6 separate regions of the Homo sapiens genome follow, and regions 1, 3, 4, 5 and 6 are each reported to be linked to region 2. Evidence: microRNA targets listed by miRTarBase, many of them from high-throughput screens and not tested one by one. Region 2 holds a microRNA gene; each other region holds the end of a gene's coding sequence.
Evidence for each region. Region 2 holds the annotated microRNA hsa-miR-4469 (GCUCCCUCUAGGGUCGCUCGGA, at 1,786-1,807, shown strand). A microRNA usually pairs through its seed, bases 2 to 8, with sites in the 3' UTR of a target mRNA and lowers its output. Matches are read on the target gene's strand: a 7mer-m8 pairs with bases 2 to 8, a 7mer-A1 pairs with bases 2 to 7 and ends in A, and an 8mer does both.

Region 1 (4,096 bases), not on the chromosome of region 2:
CATTAACAACTCGGCTCTGTGAAAGCCTTCTCCTTGGATCCAATTAAGGGACCCACAAACCAACAGATCCACCATCCTACAAAAGGTTTAGCCCCCTCAGAAGCTGTGTGACCTCGGGCTAGTTACCTCTCCTCTCTGAGCCTGCTTTTATTTATCTACAAAATGTGAATTGTAATAGTACCCATAATGATACTTCTAGGTTGTTTGACGTGCATTAGTGAGCGATGACCCGTGGGAAGCTTCTAGCTTCTAGTCAATTAAGCCCTGGTCCCCGTGCTCTGCCTAAATCCAGCTCCCTACCCCACCCAGTCCTCCCTCCCCACCGCCGACGGGGAGCGCTCGAATTCCCTCCTGCTGGGCGCGAGGGAGGGGGGGCGTCCCGTGCCCGCTGCCAGGCCCTAGTTCTGGGGGCCGAGCGATCCCAAGGCCTTGCCGAGCTTCCCCGGGGATCAGGTTTCTGCTGACGCGGTGCCAGGCACGTCTGCTTCCAGGAACCGGCAGCCGCTTTTAGCCGCGGGCCGCACATGAAAGGGCTGCAGTCGGAAACGTGACGTTGTGTCAACAGGCGGGGCAGGTCAGCGCTGGGTGAGACCATCCCGGCAGGCCCGGCGGATCACGCCCTGTCTGAAGGCGGCCAGATGCCCAGCCTCCGCTCCCCTGCCTCCTGCCACCTCTCCTTGGCCCCGGAGCCAGCGCTTCGCCCCCTGACACTCACACACCCCGCTTTTTAAACAGAAGTCCTCTTTGTCCGCAGTGGGCATTAGGCTGGGGTGCGCGCCCCTCCCCCGCACCTCCCTCTGAGCGCATTTGGATGCCGCTAGAACTGGGCTAGAAGAGAGGTTAAGGGCGAGCTGGAAGCAAAAAATGAAGTGGAGGGACAGCTGCAACTTGAGGCGCTGTTTGACAGGGGCAGGTTCCCATAGCGGGATTCTGGGTTGACTGTGTGTGGAACCCTCAAATCTTTTTTTTTAGTTCAGGTTGCTCCAACCACTTCCTCCTTTCCCCAAAGCTACTCCTCCTGCAGTGGCCTGGGAAAAAGAGAGGGTTATGCAAAAAGAGTTTGGTCTTGATTTTTCAACCCCCGGCTATATCACCAGGGTAAGTTTGATTTGTTGGGTTTTTTCCAAAAAAGTCTAGCTAGAGAGGTCTGGCAACTCATGGAGCAATTGAGGTGTTTCACAGGCATGAGACCTGGAAGCCCAGGCGTTGGGCTGGGAGAAAGAGTGGCTTACAGAATTTGCCATCTGCCTGCTCTGGGACTTGTGAGAAGGGCTCGGAATTCTTATTTTATCTAGTCAAAAGCAGGCGTGGAGAGGGAGGTGATAGACCACCAGCTATTGATGCCAGGCTTCCACCTCCTGGTCCCGGCTCCTTGCACAACAGCCTGTGGCCTGGGGACAGTTACGTGCATTCCATATGCATCCAGCACAAGCAGACAATGCTCACTTTCACCTGCTGGCCCATCAGGAGACAGGGAAGGTGACATGTGAAGCAAACAGTCTTCATGGTCAGGTGGAGCCTCTGCCTGGCTAAGAAATCCCTAGGGGCAGCTTCCCTGCTGTACTCCAGACAACCAGGGAGTCCTGGCAGACTGGGATGCTTTGGGAGCCGGAGCGTGTTGAGTCAGGCGCTGGCCATCAGGAAACATCAGGACACCTCTGACAGGGAGTATCCCACAGGAATGTTGCAAATCAAGGCAAAGGAGAGAGGCAAAAATACACGACAGGGTCATTTCCCACCTTTCCCATGGAATTTTTTTTTTTTTTTTTTAAATAAGAGCACTTGTCGAAGGAACACCCAATATGCATTCACGCACAAACATACCGGAGAGGAAGTCCAGGAAGGATGTAGAAAATAATTATGGAATGTTGCCTCCAGCAGGAATAAGACAGGATATGGCAAATCCATTAGACCTTGCTAGATTTGAAAAAGCTAGACTGCTTTGGCAAAGAGGTGCTATCCTAGCATCAATTAGTATTGCATAATAATCCAGTAAATCTTTTCTCAATGTGCCTCTCCCTCCAGCAGGCTCCCCAGACACTGCTGCCCACGGTGTCATACCTTGGTTTTCTGTCAAGTTCCAAGGACCACGATGAAAGCAGGCAGGGGAAAATATGCTTTTTACTTAACTCTGGAAAGAGGTAGAGGATGATCATGAACCCCTGGCAAGGGTTAAACAAAAATTGAACCAATATTTACCTGCCAGGTTGACTAAGCTTATTCTGATTGAATACAAAGCACATGAAAAGCTGAATGAAATTACACTGAGATTAACTGGTTTGCTTCAGCCAAGAAAGAAGGACATGGGAGTCAGCCATATCACACCAAGTGAGCTATTTTAAAAAACTCAGGAGACCATCTTTCTCTTCCACAGGAAAAGAATTATTTTATTAAGTATTTTAAAACAACTACTTAACATTTACTCATAGATAAAAATATTTACAATTTTACACCTTCAGGAAGGCTCCAAAATATAAACACTGTACCTCTCCCTAGAGAAAAAAAAAATTATTCTTCTCTTCAAAAACAGGAATACATTCATTTTTTCTCACTGTGTGAATCAAGTAATTATACAAATAAACATCTGAAACATTTTCCTTTTTAATATATTTATATAATATATATTTATAACAGCTTTACAAATAAAGGCAACGACTTAATACCAAAATAAAAACAGGAAAAGAAAAAGTTAAAACACGATCAGCAATCAGGCATAGTGCATTTTGAAAAGCTGCTGCGGAGCTGGCTGGACACATCGGGAAAACAAGTACTCTGGACCAAAAATAAAACTTCTTTGAAGGAGACGGAATCCTTTTTAGCAATAAGGACACTCCATATGCCGTTGGGCAAGAGGAATTAGCCTACAGAAAGGATCTGGCGGTGCCAAGGCTTGGTTAGGCCTTTGAGAAGCTAAGCTTGGTTAAAAGGAGTTTTAGGATGGAATTGAAAACTGAGTCTAGTTCTGTTTGAAGGGGGCAGCTTTTTACTCAGCTTTGTGCACTTTGGGGTGCTCGCTCGGGGTGTCCGCATTTCTCAGACCTTGGTTTGGTTCCCTGCACAGTAAGTACTAATGGTTAGGCCTAGAAACAGGTGCCAGAAGCCCAGGGAACTCCTCCCTCCCTCCGGGGCAGCTCAGCTTGTACAAGGGGCCCATTTTCAGTTCCTTAGTAAGCTAATCACTACGAAAGCCTGAGTAGGGAACTACATTCTCTTTATTCTTCCGAGGCAGGGGTGGGGAGCAGACCTGCGGAAACCTCCCCAAACCACTACCGTGCTATGCCAGTGCCTGCTACCTCCCCATGTTAGCAGAAAGCTCGGTCTGACTGCTCTCTCTCCCCGACGTCTGGTGAGTCACGTCGACAATAAAGGCAAAAGGGTGGGGTCCTAACAGCTGGTTGGGAGCTGAGCCCTGGAAAGCCCTCTTTTGAAAGTACCTTCTGATCAAAGCCACAGACCCAGCTCCCAAACTGAAGAGTGACTCACAGACCAAGACTTTGAAGCTTTTGAAAATCCAGCTGATGTGTATCGAAGGGGGCTATTCTCTGGGTGGGGAAAAGCCCAGACGTCTGCTACAATCCCCCCCAAGTCTCCTGATGTCAAGCAATCCTTCGTGACTTCCCTATGCCAAAAGGAGCTTTAAAGTCCTATACCAACACGCAGGCACACATGTGCACGCACACGCACATACACACACACACACACACACACACACCCTGAATCTGCTCTCCATGCCTCAGATTATCTCAGTATACACAATGCAACAATCTTGCAGCATTCACAAAAACTTTTTTGTTGCTTTTTAGGAAGTAGCGAGGAAGGAAAGCAAAGCAGCAGGATCCCCTAGAGAGTTTAGTCTTTGGTTTCTAAGTTTAAAGGGGGGATTGGCTTCAGAGCTTGGAGCAAGACAGAAGAGTCGACGGACGGATGAGCTGGCAAGGGAGAAGGGAGTCTCTGGGGCATGAGCAAGGGAGCCGAGATCTTGTCTGGGTTCATGAAGCTAGAGAGGGCTGCGGCAGAGGCGTTGAGGCCTGGGTATAGCACTGGCACTGAGGTGGGATACCAGCACTTCTCCAGCATGGGCAGGTAGGCAGTCGCT
Region 2 (4,086 bases):
ATTCTCAGCAATGAGTGAAACGGAGGCTCCCGAAGGCAGCGCGGGGTCCGCCCGGGCTCTGCGCATCCCTCCCCCTCCCCGGCCGCGCCGCGGCGAGAACGACTGGAACCCGGGCGTCGGTTCCCCTGCCGCGTCCTGAAGACCCGGCTTCAGGAAGGCGCGGCAGCTGACGTGAGAGGTGAACATGTATTTACTTCAAAGTATGAGGAATCTAAAACCGTTTAAGAATTCAAAATCAGAATCCCACGACTCTGTCCCCCAAGGCCTTCGAGTTCCATTGTTGACGCCCAGACACCTCCAGACTCCTTTAAACGTCTGCCCGACGCCTCTGACAGGCGTCCGCCCCTCGCGCACTCCCACCGCCAGCGGTGCCTTGCATCCGAAACGGGGTCCCCGGGCGCCTCCCGCATTCTCCCCACGCTCCCTCACAGGTCCTTTCAGTTCCCGGGCCGGAGCCGGGCCCGTCCTCCGCGAACGCGGCAACAAAGGCGAGGAGCGGCGGCGGGTCCTGGACGCGGGGCAGTCAGGCTCGGCCACCCCCAGAGCGCAGCGCAGCCCCAGCTGCGAGCAGCCGCACGGATCCCAGAGTCGCCCGCCGCGTTCCCAGCCCAGCCCCGGCCGGGGTCCGCCCGGAACAGCGACGCCTCAGGCCCGGCAAGTCTCTCTCGGACCCTGGGCCGAGCCTCCTCGCCCCGCCCGCCCCAGGCCCCGGATGTGACGGCACCGTCGCCCGCAGCGCTCGCCCCACGGGCCGCGCGTGGAGGGTCCCGGTAGGTGGCGGGGGGAGGGGGTCTTCCCGCCGGCCCGCGGCCCCCACGTACCCAAGTGAGGAGGCTCTCGCACAGCTCCGCCCGCTCCAGCGACTCTACGCTGAACATCTTCCCCGCCGCGGCCAGGCAGCGCCTACCGCCTGGCCAGACACCGCCGCCGCTCTGTCGGGGGATCCGGGGGCCCGCGCAGCTGACTCGGCCTCAGGCCCGCCTGCTCCTCGGATCCGGCCGCCGACTCTCGCCCAGCGCTGGCAGCGGCTCCGCACCGTCACCCCCAGCGCCCCTCCTTCTCCTTTCACTCGGGACCGCGCGCCAGCCGCGCGCGACTTCGGACACGCCCGCCGCCCCGCGTCCCCGCCCCCGGCCGCCCACACCGCTCCTCCCCAGCGCCGCCGCCCTGGCTGGAGCCGAGGCCGAGGAGCCACTGCGCACGCTCGCGCCCCGGCCGACCCGCGCCGCCGCGCCGCCGCCGCCGCCGCCGCCGCCGCCGCTGCCGCCGGGCGCGCCCCCGCCACCAGTTCGCTGCGTGTCGAGGCGAGCACGCGCTCCGCCCTGGAGGCTGCGGCGACGGGTCCTCCTCCGCCGTCCGGTCGCGCCCTCGCGGAAGCTCGGCAGTGCGCGTGCGCCCGCACCCGCACTCCAAATTAGAAAGGGGACGTCTAGTGGGTTGCCCGGGAGGGGTGGCGGGAGCGGTCCTGGAAATAATCTGTCCTCTGTCGCCGGGAACTGGCGAGGTAGTTCCTTCGCGGTGGAGAGGTACGTCCGGCGCGCGGCGGCCACGCCCACCCTATCGGGGCCCGCGGAGCCGCGGACGGCGGGGTCTGGCCTTCTTGGGGTAGCTCTGGCCGCCGAGGCTCTGCGGGGCGGCGGGAGTCGCCGCCTCCTTCCCCCCGGGCCCCTCCCTCGTCTGGAAGCCCCAGAATCGCCCCGCGGCTGTCCGGAGTCGCCGGCGACGGTGGAGGGGCCGACGCGGAGAGCGGCTCTAGGTGGGTTTGGCGGCGGCGAGGACACCGCCGCTCCCTCTAGGGTCGCTCGGAGCGTGACCCTGAGAACTCTCCTTAATGCAGGAGGGGTGTGCGCCCGCTCGCCAATCCGTAAGGACACCGGCCGACCCCGGGCCTGCGTTTCTCAGCGTTCGGAGTTGCCTTCGCTTAATGGCGAGGCGGATCGTTCTGGAGCTTCCACCTCTTTAGAGGCACGAATCTGTCTGCTGGGCTGCCGATAAATTTTTAACAGATATAGCATACGCAGAAAAGTGCATACGACATACACGTTTAAAGAAGAATTAATAAAACACCCAGATAAAAACGAAAAGGGCATTACCGGCACCCCAGGAGTTTCTCACCCATGCCCTGTGCTCCTTTCGGAGCCTGATTGTCTCCTAGCCTGACTAGTGTGATCATTTCCTTACAGCTTTACCATCTATGTGTGCATGCGATGTCGTTTTCCTTTGCCTGTTTTTGAACTTTTGCGGGTGGATCACAGTGTGTTGTTTTGTGGTTTTCAATCAGTATTAAATTGGTGTACTGTGTATGTATAGGTAATTTTAATTGTTGCCTAGTATTCCAGTGTGAATAGAACAGTGAATCCATTCTACTCTGGTTGGGCATTTTGTTCAGACTGAGGCCACTCAGAACATGGCTATAAACATTCTAGTGTACCTGGAACGTAGTGCAAATATGTTGGAATTTCCAGGACATGCACTTTGGAGTCCTTAGAGAATTGTCGATGCGTAGAGTATGCATAACTACCACCCAATGCCAAATTTTTATTTGGAGTGCAACAAAGCTAACTTCCCAAGACACACTTTGCTTTGTAGTTCCTGGAACCCCTTTCCCCCACTTTTTTTCCATTAAGAGTAGGTTTTCTCATTGAGCACTGAAAACTGCCAAGACAGCATTGAGTGGGGTTTTTTGTTGTTGTTGATGGTGGTTTTTGAGAAAGGGTCTCGTTCTGGAGTGCAGTGGCGCAATCTTGGTTCACTGCAACCTCTGCCTCCTGGGCTCAAGTGATCCTCCTACCTCAGCCTCCCAAGTAGCTGGAACCACAGGTGCAGGCCACGATGCTCAGCTAATTTTCTTATTTTTTGTAGAGAGGGGGTCTCGCTATGTTGCCCAGGCTGGTCTCAAATTCCTGGGCTCAAGTGATCCGCCCGCCTTAGCCTCCCAAAAGTGCTGGGATCAAAAGTGTGAGCCACCGAGCCTGGGTCAGCAGTGAGTTTTTAAGGTTGCCTTACAGAGTACCACTTGATAGTTGACCCCTGATCATTTAGCATTTTGTAAGTGTAAAAAAAAAAAAACTTACCTGAAGTATTCTCAATGGTCTTTTTTTCAAACATTCTTCCCTACACCAAGGGCAGAGAAACCTTTAGAAATTACACATACGTGGCCAGGCGCGGTGTCTCGCGCCTGTAATCCCAGCACTTTGGGAGGCCGAGGCGAGCGGATCACGATGTCAAGAGATCCTGGCCAACATGGTGAAACCCCGTCTCTACTAAAAATACAAAAATTAGCCGGGCGTGGTGGCGGGCTCCTGTAGTCCCAGCTACTCGGGAGGCTGAGGCAGGAGAATCGCTTGAACGCGGGAGGCTGAGGTTGCAGTGAGCCGAGATCGCGCCACTGCACTCCATCCTGACGACAGAACGAGAATCTGTCTCAAAAGAAAAAAAAAATTACACATGTGTGTCTCGCCTGTGTTTGGTTCCTGTGTTGGTGCCTCTGGATATTTGTCAAACTAGAGTTCCTACATTCCTTATCAGGTTATTTCTGTCGAATCTCTAGCACTTTTAAGTGACGTATAATCTTGTAGGCAAGTGAATGAAGTCAGTGAGTATATGTCACATTGACTTACTCCTGACTCACATGCAGCTTGTCTTTAGATGGGCAGATAAGATGCTGGCCCTACTGGAGCGACTGTGGTTGTGCCGTCCTGAGCACCCTTCCTCCAGTGGCCCCGGTTTTCAAGGCTTTGACACAATGGACCTAAAGTCTCCTTTTTCAAGCTTGGCTGCATATCCACAGTGCTTTTGTGCATGATGTTACGTTGTTCTGGAGGTTTCATTTTGTAATTCCAGTTACCTTTGATGAAAGAAATTAGTAAAAACTTTTTGGATGTGAGTAATTGCAGAAGCCATGTGGCTGCTGAGTTTCTACGTAAGCCTTGGGGTAAAAAGACACTGAGATTCTCTCCTTTGTTCCAGGAAGTCCCGGAATTTCCTATTTTTCTATTTTCTCTGTGTGTTTTATTTTTTTTCCTTCCCTGAAAGCTTTGGAAATGCCTGAGGAGAGGTGAGTTGAACTTGTCTTAGCTGTCTGGT
Region 3 (4,000 bases), not on the chromosome of region 2:
AATAGCCATTCTGATGGGTGTGAAGTGGTATTTCATGGTAGTTTTACCTTTCCTTATTAGTGATGTTGAGCATCTTTTCATGTTTATTGGCCATTTATATATTTTCTTGGAGAACTGTCCAACTCCTTTGCCCATTTTTTAATAAGGTTTCCTTTGTTGTTCACTATACTTTAAGCTTGTCCTACCCATGGTTTGCAGGCCGTGTGCAGCTCAACACAAATTCGTAAACTTTCTTAAAACATTGAGGGTTTTTTGTGTTTTGTTTTAGCTCATCAGCTATCATTAGTGTTGGTGTATTTTATGTGTGGCCCAAGACAATTCTTCTTCTTCCAGTATGGTGCAGGGAAGCCAAAAGATTGGATACTCCTGCTTTAAACTTCAAATTGTAAGCTCCTTAAAGGCAGGAATCATGTTTTCATTTTCCTTAAAAAACCTAACCAAAACAAACACAACCCTGCAAAGCTTAACAGAATGTGTGAAGTATGTAGATACCATTTGTTGAATGCAAAAAACGACTTAATATTTTCAACCTTGTAAGAGTTGAAGAAAGAAGGAGGAAACACAAGAAGTGGCTCAATAGTCAAAGACAGGTTTATTTTGGGGAGTATTCTGGCTGATTTCAATCAGGAGCATTCTGTCTTACAGACTGAGGGTACTTAAGGGTTTAGCAAGGGAGAGCTTATCGCATGCTCGGAGTGTTTCTGGGTGGAGGAGAATTTTATTTCAAGGGTGGAATGTCTGTTCGGAGGGGAGGTTATCTCGGGGCTGGGATGTCTCTGGTCAGAGGGGGCTTTATCTCAGGGTTGGAAAGTTTCTGGTCTAAGGTGTCATTTATGGTTTATGGTCATGCTGACATTAGCCATTAGGCTGATGTTTTCTGGGCTGGATTTAGGCGGTTTTTAATTGGGAGAACTTAAAATGGCAGTGCTTGTCCAAGATGGCGATGCTTCTGCTCTGTCAAACCTTACCTTCTTACACTTTACATGGGGGTAAGGGTTGTCTGCGTTAGGCTGCTGTAAGCTGCCAGAAGGCAGGACCACAGCTACAGAGGCTCTTTGAACAGCACCTCATATTGCACTCCAGCAACCAGATATTTAATACAAGTTTTTAAATATGCCTGTGGTGATCTTGGCAGCATGTGATATTTCCTGTTTGGCTACCACTGTAAATTTGATACAAACTCTGAAAATAATGAATACTTAATTTTGGTGCGTCTTTGAACAATTTTCTTGAGTCCAGGAGCCCATAGCACTGGGCAATCCAGGTGATCTGATACCACAGAGATTTTTCCTGTCAATCAGGAGATGAGGATTCAGGCTCACTGAGACTGCTGCTGCTGACTTTATTAACGGTTGTACAGGTCACTCAACCTCTTGGTGGCTCTGGAAAATTAGGAAAATACTGATTATCTTAGGTTCAGGAAGAACTAGTGAAATGCCTATTTTTGAAATATAGGCTTAAGGAAGAGCTTAATTTGATAATGATATTTTTATAAAAATGAATTTTAGAAGTAAAAAACTTCCCACCTAGAATCACAGGAAATGTAGTTTTTCTGGTTTTGTTTTAAAGAATGAGATGCTATCGTTCAAAAATTGAATAAGTATTTATTGTTCCAGAAGGTACATTGCTTTTTATACATATTTCATAAATGATACAGGATTTTACACATGTTCAATAGTTTGCTATTTGTTTAAAGAACTTTTCTCCATGTCCTCCCTCCCTTGCTTCCCACACACCCCAAAAAGATTTGCTCGTTGCACTGTGCTGTTTCTTCTTAAAAACCCTATGCACAAACAGGATAAATGGGTTAAAAATAATTCACACAACTTAACAAAAATAAATGAGGGAAGGAGCTGACGACTGGGGGTGGTGGAGGGAGAAGGAAGTGGGCGGAGGGTCAGGAAGTGGAGACATGCATCCTTTCATTCCGTCATGCCAATGAAAGGGGTGTTGGCAGGAGTAGCAGCAGCAGCAGCAATCCTGGCTGGCCTTCAACCTTTGCAAGGCACCTGGAGTCTGGGTTTGTCATTTAAAGTTTTTCTTTTCATACACAATGATCCCAAAGGAGGAAGAAAAAGAGAAAGAAACTCCTTGCCACAATGAGGAAGGATGAATCACGTGAAAGAAAAGGCCAATCAGTGGTGTGGCAGCCCCCATCATCCTTTCCATCCTGCCCCTACAGCAGTTAAAAACAGGATATTAGACACAGATTCCTTTGACTCTTCAAGCGCAGATGTCATCTGGAAATATGGTAGAAAATGTTTTGACAAAGTATAAGATTAATTCTCTTTCTCTCAATTTAAGATAAGAAAAAATAGGGTGAAGAGAGTGGGCTTGAAGGAAGCCCTAGAAATGTATTCCTATATAAAGATAAATTGCACCCTTTGAGATCCACACACTTGATTTACAACTGAAGTTGTGGAGGTGGGAGGGCTCACAAACAGTGTGGAAGTGTGTGTCCTTCGAGATGAACAAAGCCTCCAGACAAGGCAGTCCCATCTGGCTGGCCTGGAATGCTGTCACACAAAGCAGATTAGCAATAAAATTATTCTGGTTGAAATGGCTACAGAGCCATGATTCTTAGCCAATTTGTAAACCTTACATCTTCCTGATTTGGTAGTACAGCTGAACACCCCCTTTCCCTCTGATTTGTGTTCTGGAGGGAGAGGGGATTATCAATAGATAAGTATATAAAGGAGGGCAATTATTCCTCCTGTGAAAGACTAATTAATAAAACAAAACAAAACCAACAACCTCATGCAGTGTTGCCAGTGATTTTTAGACACTGATCCAGAGCACTGGGATATATAGACATTTAAGAAGGTATTAAGAGATAATCTAAAGTGTCAATTATTAAACAGTTATAAGTTGGTTCCAATTATCAAATGGAAAAAATGAGTGTAACCAAGAGGTACAGGTAGGTGGTCAGTAAAGGGATGCTGGAAGGAAAGATTCCTGGTAACTCTGCAGAGACTGGGTCCAATTTAAAATAAATGCTAATGATATTTTAGCATATCATGAGAATTTGCTTTTCTAGTATATTTATTTACTCCTATGTCAAAAATAGGGACAGTTAAATTAAAAACAAATAGAGTCGAGTGGGGTGCTGGTGTGTTACTCTTTTGCTGACTCTGCAAAGAAGATGCAAGAAACGAACACCCCCAGCATTGTTTTCTCTTTATGAATCTCTCAACTATATAACTGCATCATTTTCATCCAGAAACTGAGATACTTGGTTAAGACAATATTCACTAAGCCCTTTGAGCTTATATTCCACAATGCCTGATCCTCAGGTTTTAACATTCCCTTCTTCCCTCAGATCCTTTCTGTTTTTGTTTTATAATTAAAGGTAAAAACGCTCTACCCCCCACATGGCTCCCAGCTTCCACCTGCAATGCTTTAATTAAAAAGGCAAACAGGTGTTCCTTCTGCCAGGATTCAGAGGCTTTTTGCAGATCAATCTTTTTCACCAATTTGTCGGAGAGGCAGATGTACTTGTAATGGGTCTCTCAGTCTCTTAAGGTCCATTTCTGCCTAAAATAGAAACAAAAGGTGAGAAAACTGGCTAGTGAAGCTTTCAATGATATTACTGTCTACCAAGAAAAGGAAACTGTTCTCCATTACTATAAGTCAGAGAGATCATCTCAATAACTCTCAAAATAAGAGTGCCTTGAAAGACAAAGCATTTTAACTCACGGCATAGGACAACAAAGGGTGAATCCAAAATGGAAGCCATCCTTGGCAGTTTCAGCCCTCAACAAAGCCTCCAGAAAAATCAGTGCTATCAACAGGGTAGGACTCAGAGGCTAAGAATGTAAGGAGCATCTGAGACATACATCTTGATGGTGTTTCTCCAGTGAGAAGCCCTTTCACAAGGGCTAAGAGCCAGAACTTTATGCTACTCAAGATTTTAGTTATTTATCCAGTACCTGTTTAAGTTTTTACTTAGCCAGTGAATTTTGGAACAGCGTGTGTAGTCAACTGTAGTACTTTCAAAACT
Region 4 (4,094 bases), not on the chromosome of region 2:
ATCTGTAGATCCTGTTAAGACAGGAAAAACAGTGTTGGTCAAAGGGTACACGCTTTCAGTTACAAGATGAACAAGTTCTGAATACGTAAGATAGAACATGGGAGGTGATGTGGCCGGGTGCAGTGACTCACGCCTGTAATCCCAGCACTTTGGGAGGCCGAGGTGGGCGGATCATGAGGTCAAGGGATCGAGATCATCCTGGCCAACATGGTGAAACCCCGTCTCTACTAAAAATACAAAAATTAGCTGGGCATGGTGGCACACGCCTATAGTCCCAGCTACTTAGGAGGCTGAGGCAAGAGAATTGCTTGAACCCAGGAGGTGGAGGTTGCAGTGAGCCAAGGTTGTACCATTGCACTCCAGCCTGGCAACGGAGCAAGACTCCCTCACACACACACACACACACACACACAAAAATGGTGATGTGTTAATTGACCATGGCAATCATTACACAAATGTATGTGCATATCAAACCATGTTGTATACTTTGAAGAAAATAAAAAAACGACAGGAACAACAAACACATCCTTAACACTCAATCATTTTATCCCAGATTATGCTGAGTTCATGTCTCAGGGGAAACACCAAAATCCATGGAACTGCTCTCATTTTTTATCCCCTAAATGTCACTTTAACATAGGAAATGTCCATTGTGGGGTTATTTGCATTTAAACACAGGCCAATGAAAAAAGCTAAATTAAAACGTAATTATCAAGGTAATGGAAAGATATCCTAATCTCTTAATTAACAAGACTATCAGGAATATTTTGAATGTCCAATCACTCTAGGAGTCCCAATTCTCTTAAGGTAAGAACTTCAGGATTTAAACAAACTCAATGTGAAAATAAACATTTATTATAAAAATTAGTTTTGACATTTTAAAGTGAATGCAGACAAGGTGTTTTCCAGTTCAAAAGGTCCATTGTAAGCTAGAGAAGTAAATTCCAAGGCTGGCAATAACTGACTCATATTCTTCACAAGTGGCCTAGACAATAAGGAACCATTCACCTCAAATTCACAGAGCCATGAATCACCTCTGCTTCCCCATGACCTTTTCCATATCCTTCCTACTCTGTCTTCCAACCATGACACAGAACTGAAACATACTTTAAAAATCTCATCCTTGGCTAGGCACGGTGGCTCACATCTGTAATCCCATCACTTTGGGAGGCCAAGGCAGGCGGATCAAGAGGTCAGGAGTTTGAGACCAGCCCGACCAACATGGTGAAACCCTGTCTCTACTAAAAACACAAAAATTAGCCAGGCATGGTGGCACGCACCCGTAATCCCAGCTACTCAGGAGACTGAGGCAGGAGAATGGCTTGAACCCGGGAGGCGGAGGTTACAGTGAGCCAAGATCATACCACTGCACTCCAGCCTGGGTGACAGAGCGAGACTCCGTCTTTAAAAAAACAAAACAAAACAAAACAAAAAACAACAAACTCATCTTTACTGAACCATTTCATAAGCTCTACTTTATTTGTCTAGTTGGATTTCATTTCTTCTGGAAAATTTATTGTTTATTGGCATGTGACCCTTGACTGATGGCTTCATTAGCATTTTGTTTTTCTTTTTGGATCCTTAATAGAAAACTCAATTCTGTTAGGGATTTCCAAATAGGATAGGGCAAAGTCGCACTTAGTATATCCTCCACAGAAAGAAAGAAGCAAAATCAAGCCAAGAGGGCCCTTTACTTGTCCTCTTGCTAAGTTAATAAATAGACTGGTGGATGGTGGTAGATGGAGAAACAAAAATGTAAGGGCAGAGAAGGGTCCAAATGGGGAGGAAGAAAGCAATGACAGCCAGGCTGTCCGGCTCATTCCTGTTCATTCACATGCAGACCACCCATGATCTGGTCTTCAAATTTCTTCTGAATTCCACCCCACTAAATACAGTAGCAGTTACTACTTTAAACTACTACTAAAGCACTTGTTCTCCAAATGACCTGAGAAATCCCCTTGCCTCAGCTCTGGGACAGTAGTTCCTACAGCTGTAGGGAGGTCTGTTAATGCACCTGGCTGAACAGGAGGTACAAGAGTAAGTACCTTCTCTCACTTGGTGGAACAGGCCAAGGAGATCCCCCAAGTACAGCATCAGCTTCACCCTGTGTACCTTCCTCCAGCAAAGGAAGGCCTGGCCACAAGAGGGCTCTGGAATGAAGGCCTGAAATTCAGAAGCTCTGCCTTGAGATAAGAACCAGGAAGGGGCAGGACCAGGCACTGGGAACCAGCCCCAGGTTGCTGGGAAGCAAGGCTTTGAGGCATTTTCCTGTTGTACAAAGGAGCCTAGGAACCCTCAAAGACCTTTTCCCCTACTTACTTCCCACAAAAAAGAGCCTTGACAAACCAAGGTTTTATTTCCAGCAACATTCAGCTGATACAAACACATAGAAATACAATCTCACCAAAGAGCTAAGAAGCCCTCCAACACACGCCCAATTTCAGCATACAGCTAAGACTACACAACACACACACAAGCTCAACAAAGAGCTAAGACCACTACACACATCTCCACAGCACCACAGGCACATCTCAAAAGGGTCTGTCCAGTAGTTCCAGCCAAGGGAAGGGTGATGGCCTAAGCCACCAGCTCCAGCTTTCTTTTCTTTCTTTTTTTTTTTGAGCTGGAGTTTTGCTCTTGTTGCCAGGCTCCTGAGCAGCTGGGATTACAGGCATGCACCACTATGCCTGGCTAACTTTGTATTTTTAGTAGGGTTTCTCCATGTTGGTCAGGCTGATCTTGAACTCCTGACCTCAGGTGATCCGCCTGCCTCAGCCTCTGGGATTATAGGCGTGAGCCACTGCGCCCAGCCTCCAGTTTTCTTTTCTTTAGAGCAGCGGTTTTAAATCCTTTTGGCTTCAAGTTCTCTGAAAATTTACTATGCTCTCCACAACAAGAGCTCCCATTTTCCACAGACACAGTCAATGTCAGTCAGCTTGTATTCAGGAGGACAGGGCAGAGGGATCCCAGTGGCACTTCCCATGGGAAGACAGAAGAGAGTGGGCCCCAGAGATGGAAGGACCCCAGTGTCATCACCAAACAACCATTTCAGCCGCTCTAGCCTCTAATTCCCGCTCTAGAACAGCTGGCCCTGGTCGTCAGTACACAAGGAAAGAGCCCAGAACCAAGCTCAAGATACCTATTCAAAGATCCCTGCCAGCCAGGTGGGCAGTTGAGTGCAGATTCCTGCGACCCCCGCCATTTTTGCTGTCTACTTAGAAGGGAAGTCAATGGCATACCCAGGATTCCTTCCTGATCCCTCAAAGAAATGGGGAATAAACACTTTAAACAAGTTCCAGGCCACTCAGCAGTGGTAGGAAAGGGAGGGAGGGCATGAAGGAGGATGGGGCACATAGCTGACATTATTAAAAACACATCCGAAGAAGTAGGGGGCCCTGTGGGGTGTAGAAGACAAATAAGGCATCCTGTGAAACTACAGACATCAGGGGCCAGAGTCCGGTAGCACCTGAGTAAGGCAAATGCAGATGATAGGCGGTGAGCCGACCAGGCTCACACCAGGAATGACGAGGTCTGTTTGAATTCTCCCTGCAGAAATAAAACATCCAGTCAACTCTCAATAGTCTTCTTTAGCTGATAATCCCCAAAACACATAAACATGGGCTAGAAATCTCCTCACTCCAGCCCCAGGTGGCCCACCCCTGCCCAGGGGAGGCATACTCACTTCACTTCGGGCACTAGGCTGGCTGTAAATCACCTTCTTACTCGAAGTCCTGTGAACAAGCCAGAAGACAGAGACACTCAGCCACCTAGGTGCTTATTAACCTCCCCTTGCCAACTTTAAAGGCCAGAAGCGAGAATGCTACAGAAGCACAGAGTGCGCAGCAGACAGGTATGGGTGGGGTAACAGGACAGACCCAGGGCCAAGGCCACAGAGAAAGGGCTGGATATCCAAATGCCTTCCCTCCAAACTGGTTGCTTCTGCCTTCAACCCATTCCCCTAGGCCCACTTCAGCTTCAAACCACATGCATCCATGCTCTCAAACTTGGAGAACCCCAGGACAGCACCTCACTCACCCTTTCTTTGTTCCTGAAAGAGAAGAAATGGGATCATGAGTGTCAGCAGGACAGAAGAC
Region 5 (4,103 bases), not on the chromosome of region 2:
AGGCGCAGCGCAGAAAAGAGAAGAGGCAGAGGGTGAAGGGGAACCTCACGCCGCTGACCGGGAGGAACTACCGGCAGCTGCTGGAGCGCCTGCAGGCACGGCAGAGCCGGCTGGACGAGCTGCGCGGCCAGGATGAGGGGAAGGCGCAGGAGCTGGAGGCGAAGATGAAGTGGACCAACCTCCTCTACAAGGCGGAGGGCGTGAAGATCCGTGACGACGAACGCCTGCTGCAGGAGGCCCTGAAGCGCAAGGAGAAGCGCAGGGCGCAGCGGCAGCGCCGGTGGGAGAAGCGCACGGCCGGCGTGGTGGAGAAGATGCAGCAGCGCCAGGACCGGCGGCGGCAGAACCTGCGCAGGAAGAAGGCGGCCCGCGCCGAGCGCCGCCTGCTCAGAGCCCGCAAGAAGGGCCGCATCCTGCCGCAGGACCTGGAGCGCGCAGGCCTGGTCTGAGTCTTTCCCACCTGGGGCCGCCGTCTTCCGTCCTAGGAGACTCCAGGACACCCTCTGAGTCCTTGACGCTGGCTCTGTCCCAGGATCTCCACAGACCTCGGCCTCTCCATGTGAGGGGGACACAGTGGTGCTCTGCTGAGTTGTGAGGGCCCAGATCACAGATCCCATGTGAGAAAGAGAGAGTTTCAGCGTCATCCTTGAACGCAGGATCCGGGACCTTCAGACCCAGGGAAAGGGTGAGGGAGACTGGGGCCTGGTCTGCTTTCCCGGGCCTGAAAGCTTCCCCGAGGTTTGCAGGGTCAGGGAGGAGGAACGGTGGGGGTGGGCAGTCACTGCCTGTTCCCCACTGCCTGTGTTCGCAGGAGCCACGGGACAGAAGACGGTGGCCTCTGCTGCCGGGCCACGTTAGTCCGCAGCTCACCCGAACAGAGGACAACCCTGAGGTGTGGCATATGGGCACCTGGCACTGGGAGTCGGGGGAGCACGTCCAGGCGTGGTGCATCCTGGGGCAGAACGCCATGGCTCCTCCCCGCTCTCTTGGCTTCTGCCTGTTGGGGTCTCATTCCTTTCTGTTCCCCAGTGCCCCGGGGCGGCATTTTACTGCTCAGAATTTGGAGGGAGGGAGCAGTACCTTCCCGGAGTCCACGCATGTGAGTTGGGTCAAGTGCATTGGACCTAGGGAAAGAGAAAGAAAGAATAAAAGCTGGAGAGAGAGTGAAGTGAATGCAAGATACAAAGTGGGATGGAAGAATTAAATCCAGAGTTCCAGGCAATCAAAATGAGTGCAGGTTGAAAGAAAACAGGTGAATTTTAGTGGCATATGGATGATAAAGCTGTAAATAAAATTCTTTTGATGAAACTCTCCGGTTATGAGACAAAGACTGTAACTGAACAGGAGCTGGTGTGACTGTTACCAGACAGAGGCAACTGATGAAAAAGCCCTGTGAAAGATAGGATGTGAGGTGAGCATGAGCTTGAGCTGAGAGACAGACACAACAGTATCTGAAAAGAATACATACTCTTTCCATGCATATATGGAACATGGATGGAAACTGACCACCTACTTTGTCCAGAAAAGAAGTCTTAAGATATTTCAAGGAATCAGTGTCGTTATCTGACCGTATCCCAATGTCATTAAAAAAAATTTGAGCTATTTTTTTTTGTTTTTTAGATAGAGTCTTGCTCTGTCACTCAGGCTGGAGTGCAGTGGCATTTCATATTTGGAATTTTTAAAACACACTTATAAATTACCTATGAGTTAAAGAATTCCGAATGGCTATTAGAAATATTTGGGACTAAAGGATAATGAAAATGCTACGTATTAAAATTTGTGGAACAGGGCCTGGCATGGTGGCTCATGCTGTCAATCCCAGCTCTTTGGGAGGCGGGTGGATCACTTGAGATCAGGAGTTCAAGGCTAGCCTGGACAACATGATAAAACCCCATCTCTATTAAAAATAAAAAATTAGCTGGGTGTGGTGGTGCAAACCTGTAGTCCCAGCTGCTTGGGAGGCTGAGGCGGGAGAATCACTTGAACCCAGGAGGTAGAGGCTGCAGTGAGCCAAGATCGAGCCGCTGCACTCCAGCCTGGGTGACAGAGCAAGACTGTCTCAAAAAGAAAAAATTTAAGATTTGTGGAACAGAGCTAAAGCAGCACAAAAAAACATAGCCCCTAAATGTATGTGCATCTACAGATAAATAGTGCCATTTATACACACATACGCTGTATGTCTGTATTTTTAAAGCTAAAGAAAAATAAGCATGCAGCTTAAGTTGGAACAACTCAAAGTAAATGGAAGAAAAATCTCCAAAACTGACTAAAAGTAATAGAAAGCCTGAGTTGTAATCACTGATGAAATTGAGTCAGTAGTTAAGAATGTTCCCCTAGACGGTTTTACAGGGAAGTTCCACGATATAGAGAACAGGTAATTCCAGACGTAGACAAATTCTAACAGAATCAATTGAGAGAACACTTCATTCGTGAACTTAGCTTTGATACCAAAACTAGGTAAGAGAAAGGGAAGTTACCAAATACCTGTGGGCGGCAAGCCACCCAGGCGCCGAGGCAAGAGACAGAGGACACGAGCTGTTCCAGTATAATAAAATATAAAACAAGAATAGTTACAGCAGATATAGATCTTAGATATGATTACATATGAATATCATTAATCATTAGTTTGTAGCAATTACCTTTTATTCCAATATTATAATAATCCTCGCTCTATAATCATAGCCTAGGAAAAACCAGGCCATACAGAGATAGGAGCTGAGGGGACATAGGTGTGACCAGAAGACAAGAGTGCGAGCCTTCTGTTATGCCCGGACAGGGCCACCAGAGGGCTCCTTGGTCTAGCGGTGACGCCAGCGTCTGGGAAGACGCCCGTTGCCAGGTGGACCATGGTCTAGCAGTAGCAAAAAGTATCAAGGAACAACACCCGCTACTTAGCAGACCGGGAAAGGGAGTGTCCCTTTCCCTGGAGGAGTTTAGAGAAGACTCTGCTCTTCCACCTCTTGTGGAGGGCCTGACATCCGGCAGGCCTGCCCGCAGTTATCTGGAGGCCTAACCGTCTCCCTGTGATGCTGTGCTTCAGTGGTCACGCTCCTAGTCCGCCTTCATGTTCCATCCTGTACACCTGGCTCTGCCTTCTAGATAGCAGTAGTAAATTAGTGAAAGTACTAAAAGTCTCTGATATGCAGAAGTAATGGCATAAGCTGTCTTTCTCTCTGTCTCCTCTCTCTCTCTGCCTCGGCTGCCAGGCAGGGAAGGGCACCCTGTCCAGTGGACACGTGATCCACGTGACCTTACCTATCATTGGAGATGACTCACACTCTTTACCCTGCCCCTTTTGCTTTGTATCCAATAAATAACAATGCAGCCAGACATTCGGGGCCACTACCGGTCTCCGAGCATTGGTAGTAGTGGTCTCCCGGGCCCAGCTGCCTTTTCTTTTATCTCTTTGTCTTGTGTGTGTATTTCTACACTCTCTCATTGCTGCACACAGGGAGGGAGAGACCCACGGACCCTGTGGGGCTGGTCCCTACAAATACCAATGTCAAGATTTTAGACAATAATAAACCAAGTTTAGCAAAGTGCCACACTGGATTTAATTCAGAATTGCAAAGCAGTTTCAATGCCAGAGAATCAAGAGTGTAATTCATATCAATAGATTAAAGGAGCAAAACCCACGTGACCATCTCAATGGTTGCAGAACAGGAACACAGTAAATGACGCGACAGCCATTTATAACGAGTTTTTAGCAAACTAGGAATTAAGGTATTTCCTTACTCTGATAAGGGGATTTGGAGCCAGGCATGGACCCATCTTGAAACTACATTCTGGGTCAGGCAAATGTAGATGTATTGGAGGGAAAGACATCCCCATGGGTTCCCAAGAGGTGAAGTCATCATAGTGAACTAAGGGGCCAGTGAGGGTCTGGAAAAGGCCACTGCCATCACCTGGCTACAGAGACTGAAGAGGCGGGGGGGGGTCTCGTCCTGAGCAGAGACAGGACAACTGGGTGGGCCAGTGAGGGCTGCAGGTGGGGGAAGCTGAGAACCCAGCAATATTTTACTGCCACTGGATGTCTGCACAAGGAACCTATGCCAGCCAGGGAGGTTGAGAGTGAGGCTCAGTGGGGACTGGCATACTGGCTG
Region 6 (4,101 bases), not on the chromosome of region 2:
TATATTTTCACTTAATTCTTCATTTTCAATCTAATACCTCACCTCTATCCCCACTATGCCTGCTGCTGAATGCAGAGGCTCTGATAGTTTAAGTTCCCCTGGACATTCTGAAATTTCATGGGCTTTTTCATTCATTATGCTGGGCACTCATGGACAGTTGGTCTGGAAACTTGTGACCTTTGGGCTTAGGAAACCTTAAGTCTATCTTTGCTAACTTCCTCCCTACCATTTCTCCAGAGACGGAATCTCCCATTTTATGCAAGGGAGTAGGGGTAATCACTTGGCTGGATCAGATGAGGTTGGGACTTGGTGGGGCTTTTTCTTATACAGATCATCGTGTAATCTCCTTCCACCCCACCCCTAGTTCTCAGCGTCAGTCCATACCCTCCTCTGAGGTGCTGAACCTTTTATGGGTTCAGAAGGGCACATTGGCTTACTTCTTGCCATTAACTCCCTCAGCAGGTAGAACCCAACTCATTCTACTCTGTTAAGTGACTGTTGACTGTTCTGTTTTTCATCTTCCAAAATGTTGGCATCTCTCATTCATTGTCACCTCCTATTTTCCTTATCACTGGGTCATGTGGCTTTATTATTATATTTTTTGAGAGTTTCGCTCTTGTCACCCAGGTTGGAGTGCAATGGCATGATCTCGGCTCACTGCAACCTCCGCCTCCTGGGTTCAAGCAATTCTCCTTCCTCAGCCTCCTGAGTAGCTGGGATTACAGGTGCCCCCCACCATGCCCGGCTAAACTTTTGTGTTTTTTGGTTTTTTTTTTGAGATGAAGTCTCGCTCTTGTCCCCCAGGCTGGAGTGCAATGGCGCGATCTCGGCTCACTGCAACCTCCACCTCCCAGATTCAAGCGATTCTCCTTCCTCAGCCTCCTGAGTAGCTGGGATTACAGGCACCTGCCACCAGGCCCAGCTAATTTTTCTATTTTTAGTAGAGATGGGGGTTTCATCATGTTGGCCAGGCTGGTCTCGAACTCCTGACCTCAGGGGATCCACCCACCTTGACCTCCCAAAGTGCTGGGATTACAGGCATAAGCTACCACGCCTGGCTTTTTTGTATTTTTAATAGAGACGGGGGTCCACTATGTTGGCCAGGGTGGTCTTGAACTCCTGACCTCAGGTGATTCACCTGCCTCGGCCTCCCAAAGTGCTGGGATTACAGGTGTGAGCCACTGAGCCCAGCCAGCACGTGCCTTTTTAAAATAATTCCTTTACTGGTATTTCAATAGAATTTTTGGAGGGGGCATAAAGGCTCATGTGTTTAATTTTCCGTATTTAACTGGAAAGTTTTTGTTTTGCTTTTAATGCATGCTTCCAGCCTCTTCTATTTTTTAGGCCACTCCAGCATCAAATTTCTGTAAAGCCTTCCCTAATCACCCTAACTGGAAGTAATCTCTCTTTCTGAAAAAGCTCTGTAGACTACTTCTGATTTCTGCTATACATTCAGTACAGATACAGGGATGTCTCACTGTACTAGGTCCATGCCATAATGCCAGAATCTTCATACTAGACACTAGATCCTATACCTAACAAGACAGAAACTGAGATTTACTAGAAAATTAAGCCAAACCCTGGCCAGCCTGTCTTTTCCTTTTCCAGTGATGCCTTCATACCCACAAGCTGACTTCAGTCAGCCCATCCTCAGTTTATATCCTTTTTTTTGAGACAGAGTTTCACTTGTCGCCCAGGCTGGAATGCAATAGTGTGATCTCAGCTCACTGCAACCTCCGTCTCTTGGGTTCAAGCGATTCTCCTGCCTCAGCCTCCCGAGCGGCTGAGATTACAGGCACCCACCACCACGCCTGGCTAATTTTTGTATTTTTAGTAGAGACAGGGTTTCACCATGTTGGCCAGGCTTGTCTCAGACTCCTGACCTCAGCTGATCTGCCCACCTCAGCCTCCCAAAGTGCTGGGATTACAGGCGTAAGCCACCGCGCCTAGGCCAGTTTATGTCTTTCTATCCAACTAAAATGAATAAAGGCAACCATTTGTTCTGTAACATCTGGGACGGTAGGGATGGGGGGGTAGAGCATCACTTGTTACAACAGTCACATTAGCCACCGTTTAAGTACCACTAAAGGAAATTATTATTATTATATTGTTTTGAGGCAGGGTCTCGCTCCATCACCAAGGCTGGAGTGCAGTGGCACAATCTCGGCTCACTGCAACCTCCGCCTCCCAGGTTCAAGCAATTCTCCCTGCTTCAGCCTCCTGAGTAGCTGGGATTTCAGGCGCCTGCCACAATGCCCAGCTAATTTTTGTATTTTTGTAGAGATGGGGTTTCGCTATGTTGGTCTCGAACTCTTCGCCTCAGGTGATCCGCCTGCCTCAGCCTCCCAAGGTGCTGGGATTACAGGCGTGAGCCACTGCACGCGGCCAGAATTGTTGACTCACTCTATATGAAGACAAGGAACTCAAAAAGAAAAGACAGAAAGGCATGTCTCTTTTGGTTAAGGTTAAAGCAATACAGCAAAGTAACAAGCTCCAGGTCAAGAGTCCAATATCACACCTGGCTCTGTCAGTTACTAGCTAGGGAAGCTCTGTGAGCTTCAGGCACCTTATCTGAAAATGGGGATAAGACTTCATGGGGCTCATGTGAGGATTAAATGAAACAATATGTGAAAACTGCTTGCCTGTCACATAGTAAACACTCTCAAGGGAAAGCACCCTTCACATGGCCTTCCTGTGTTCTTGGGACCTCCATTACTGGCTCTGGGTTATATTTGTCTGTGGGGCCAATTTTCCCTTCACTGAAACACAATACGCTGAAGGACAGAGTTCTGGATTCTGAGGGTCAAGTCCTTAGCTTTACCCCTCAAGAGTCATGTGACCTTGAGCTGATTTCCTTATTTCTGATGAAGCGTGGCCCAGCTTCCTGACAGAACGAGTACCAGATCAACTGGAAAAGGCATGTGAAAGGAACTGGCATGTCTAATGGGCTTTACATATGGTTGGCAACATAATCCTCTGGCAGAAAAGTGTTCAAAATGGGACTCTATGGAAACGGGCTTAGGCACACCACCCCAGGATCACAAGTTGGTCCACAGAGGCTGGAAAAGAACCTCCGCCCTCCACTACCCATGAGCCATGGGAAAGGTTAATTAGCAAGGTACCACAGTACCACCTAGTGGCTGGCACACCCGTCCTCCCTCTCCCCCAGGTGTTAAGGAAAGGCTATCATGTGATTCTGGTCACATACTTCACTGGCTGATTAGTCAGGGATGGAGACAAACCAAATACACCACTCTCTCTTTTAATATTAACATATACAAGCAGCAGAAAGAGCCAACTGCTCTCTGCTGTTCCCTGAGGGAAAGCCGGAGCACAAAGCTGTTCCTCTGGCCTTCCTCCAACTGCCGGGCCTGCTTAGCTCCTCCCTAGGCAGAAGCTTTGTTCCAGCCCCACTTCCACATCCCAACTCCACAGTCAGGATGGGAGGCACATGGTTGCTAGCAGGGGAAAGAATACTGTAGTTCCAGCCTCTGCTCCTTTCAGTCTCAGCCTGGATGGTGGTCACTCATCCCTCTGCAGCTAGTTCCTCACTTGTCCCAGCCCAGGAGCCAGGAGGGCACTCAATCACACCCAAAGGAGCAGGCAGTGTGACTTCAGTCATCTTCAGATGACTCCTCTTCTGCCTCTTTTAGCCACTGGATGAACCTCTGCAGCTGTAAAGAAGCAGAGGAGAGATCGGCTGGGGGAGGTGCACATAACTCTCCTGCTCCCCTCGGCAGATAAACAGCTCTAACAACCAGAGCCCCAGAAACCAACCACCCTAGAGTCTAGGGGCCAGGACCTGGGAATGAGATAACCATCTTGGCGAGAGGAGGACAGCCTGACGCACCTGTTGATTCTTGCGCAACTGCTGGCCCTTGTCAGTTGTATCTCTTTGGCTGAACCAGCTCAGAATTGTTTCCTCAGCCAGGATCTCCAGCTGGTAGAAAGCCATCAGTACCTGCAAAAGGCCAATAAAGGGGACCTCAGGGGCCTTGGAAAGTCCAGCAGGATACTCTACCAGGCCCTCAGATCCCTCTATGCACTGAGTAGCCTCCTCCAAAACGGACAAGAGTGAGCTGTTCGCTCTGCTCCTGGGGC

Region 1: the mRNA of BHLHE40 is a reported target of hsa-miR-4469. Seed matches in the 3' UTR shown: 7mer-m8 at 3,117-3,123, 7mer-m8 at 3,113-3,119 and 7mer-A1 at 2,488-2,494.
Region 3: miRTarBase lists MCU as a target of hsa-miR-4469. Seed matches in the 3' UTR shown: 7mer-m8 at 1,713-1,719.
Region 4: miRTarBase lists F11R as a target of hsa-miR-4469. Seed matches in the 3' UTR shown: 7mer-m8 at 382-388.
Region 5: the mRNA of SURF6 is a reported target of hsa-miR-4469. Seed matches in the 3' UTR shown: 8mer at 688-695, 7mer-m8 at 1,064-1,070, 7mer-m8 at 1,068-1,074 and 8mer at 3,453-3,460.
Region 6: miRTarBase lists EIF2B5 as a target of hsa-miR-4469. The part of its 3' UTR that is shown has no 7-base or 8-base seed match.

What each region holds. Positions count from the first base shown.
Region 1 is chr3:4,983,446-4,987,541 of GRCh38, reverse strand. It overlaps BHLHE40 (basic helix-loop-helix family member e40), which reads right to left. Exons shown (of 5, transcript NM_003670.3): 5 at 2,219-4,096. The coding sequence ends at 3,850. Among named protein-coding and RNA genes, the nearest start is that of BHLHE40-AS1, 5.5 kb to the right of the region's middle. RefSeq lists enhancers at 59-956, 957-1,854, 2,843-2,902, 2,913-2,972, 3,403-3,582 and 2 more.
Region 2 is chr8:42,893,924-42,898,009 of GRCh38, reverse strand. MIR4469 (microRNA 4469) reads left to right here and starts at 1,735; the gene lies at 1,735-1,813. It overlaps RNF170 (ring finger protein 170), which reads left to right and starts at 1,405. Exons shown (of 7, transcript NM_030954.4): 1 at 1,405-1,526. HOOK3 (hook microtubule tethering protein 3) reads right to left here and starts at 1,032. Exons shown (of 22, transcript NM_032410.4): 1 at 822-1,032. The coding sequence starts at 878. RefSeq lists silencers at 414-473, 484-1,273, 1,454-1,813, 1,609-1,820 and an enhancer at 1,727-2,288.
Region 3 is chr10:72,885,279-72,889,278 of GRCh38, reverse strand. MCU (mitochondrial calcium uniporter) reads right to left here. Exons shown (of 8, transcript NM_138357.3): 8 at 1,585-3,534. The coding sequence ends at 3,457. Among named protein-coding and RNA genes, the nearest start is that of OIT3, 6.5 kb to the left of the region's middle. RefSeq lists an enhancer at 1,974-2,268.
Region 4 is chr1:160,995,361-160,999,454 of GRCh38, forward strand. F11R (F11 receptor) reads right to left here. Exons shown (of 10, transcript NM_016946.6): 8 at 4,036-4,048; 9 at 3,683-3,731; 10 at 1-3,546. The coding sequence ends at 3,511. Among named protein-coding and RNA genes, the nearest start is that of F11R, 24 kb to the right of the region's middle.
Region 5 is chr9:133,328,215-133,332,317 of GRCh38, reverse strand. SURF6 (surfeit 6) reads left to right here. Exons shown (of 5, transcript NM_006753.6): 5 at 1-3,542. The coding sequence ends at 449. Among named protein-coding and RNA genes, the nearest start is that of SURF6, 5.9 kb to the left of the region's middle.
Region 6 is chr3:184,144,457-184,148,557 of GRCh38, reverse strand. EIF2B5 (eukaryotic translation initiation factor 2B subunit epsilon) reads right to left here. Exons shown (of 16, transcript NM_003907.3): 15 at 3,851-3,961; 16 at 3,247-3,674. The coding sequence ends at 3,615. Among named protein-coding and RNA genes, the nearest start is that of DVL3, 8.9 kb to the left of the region's middle. RefSeq lists a silencer at 3,167-3,216.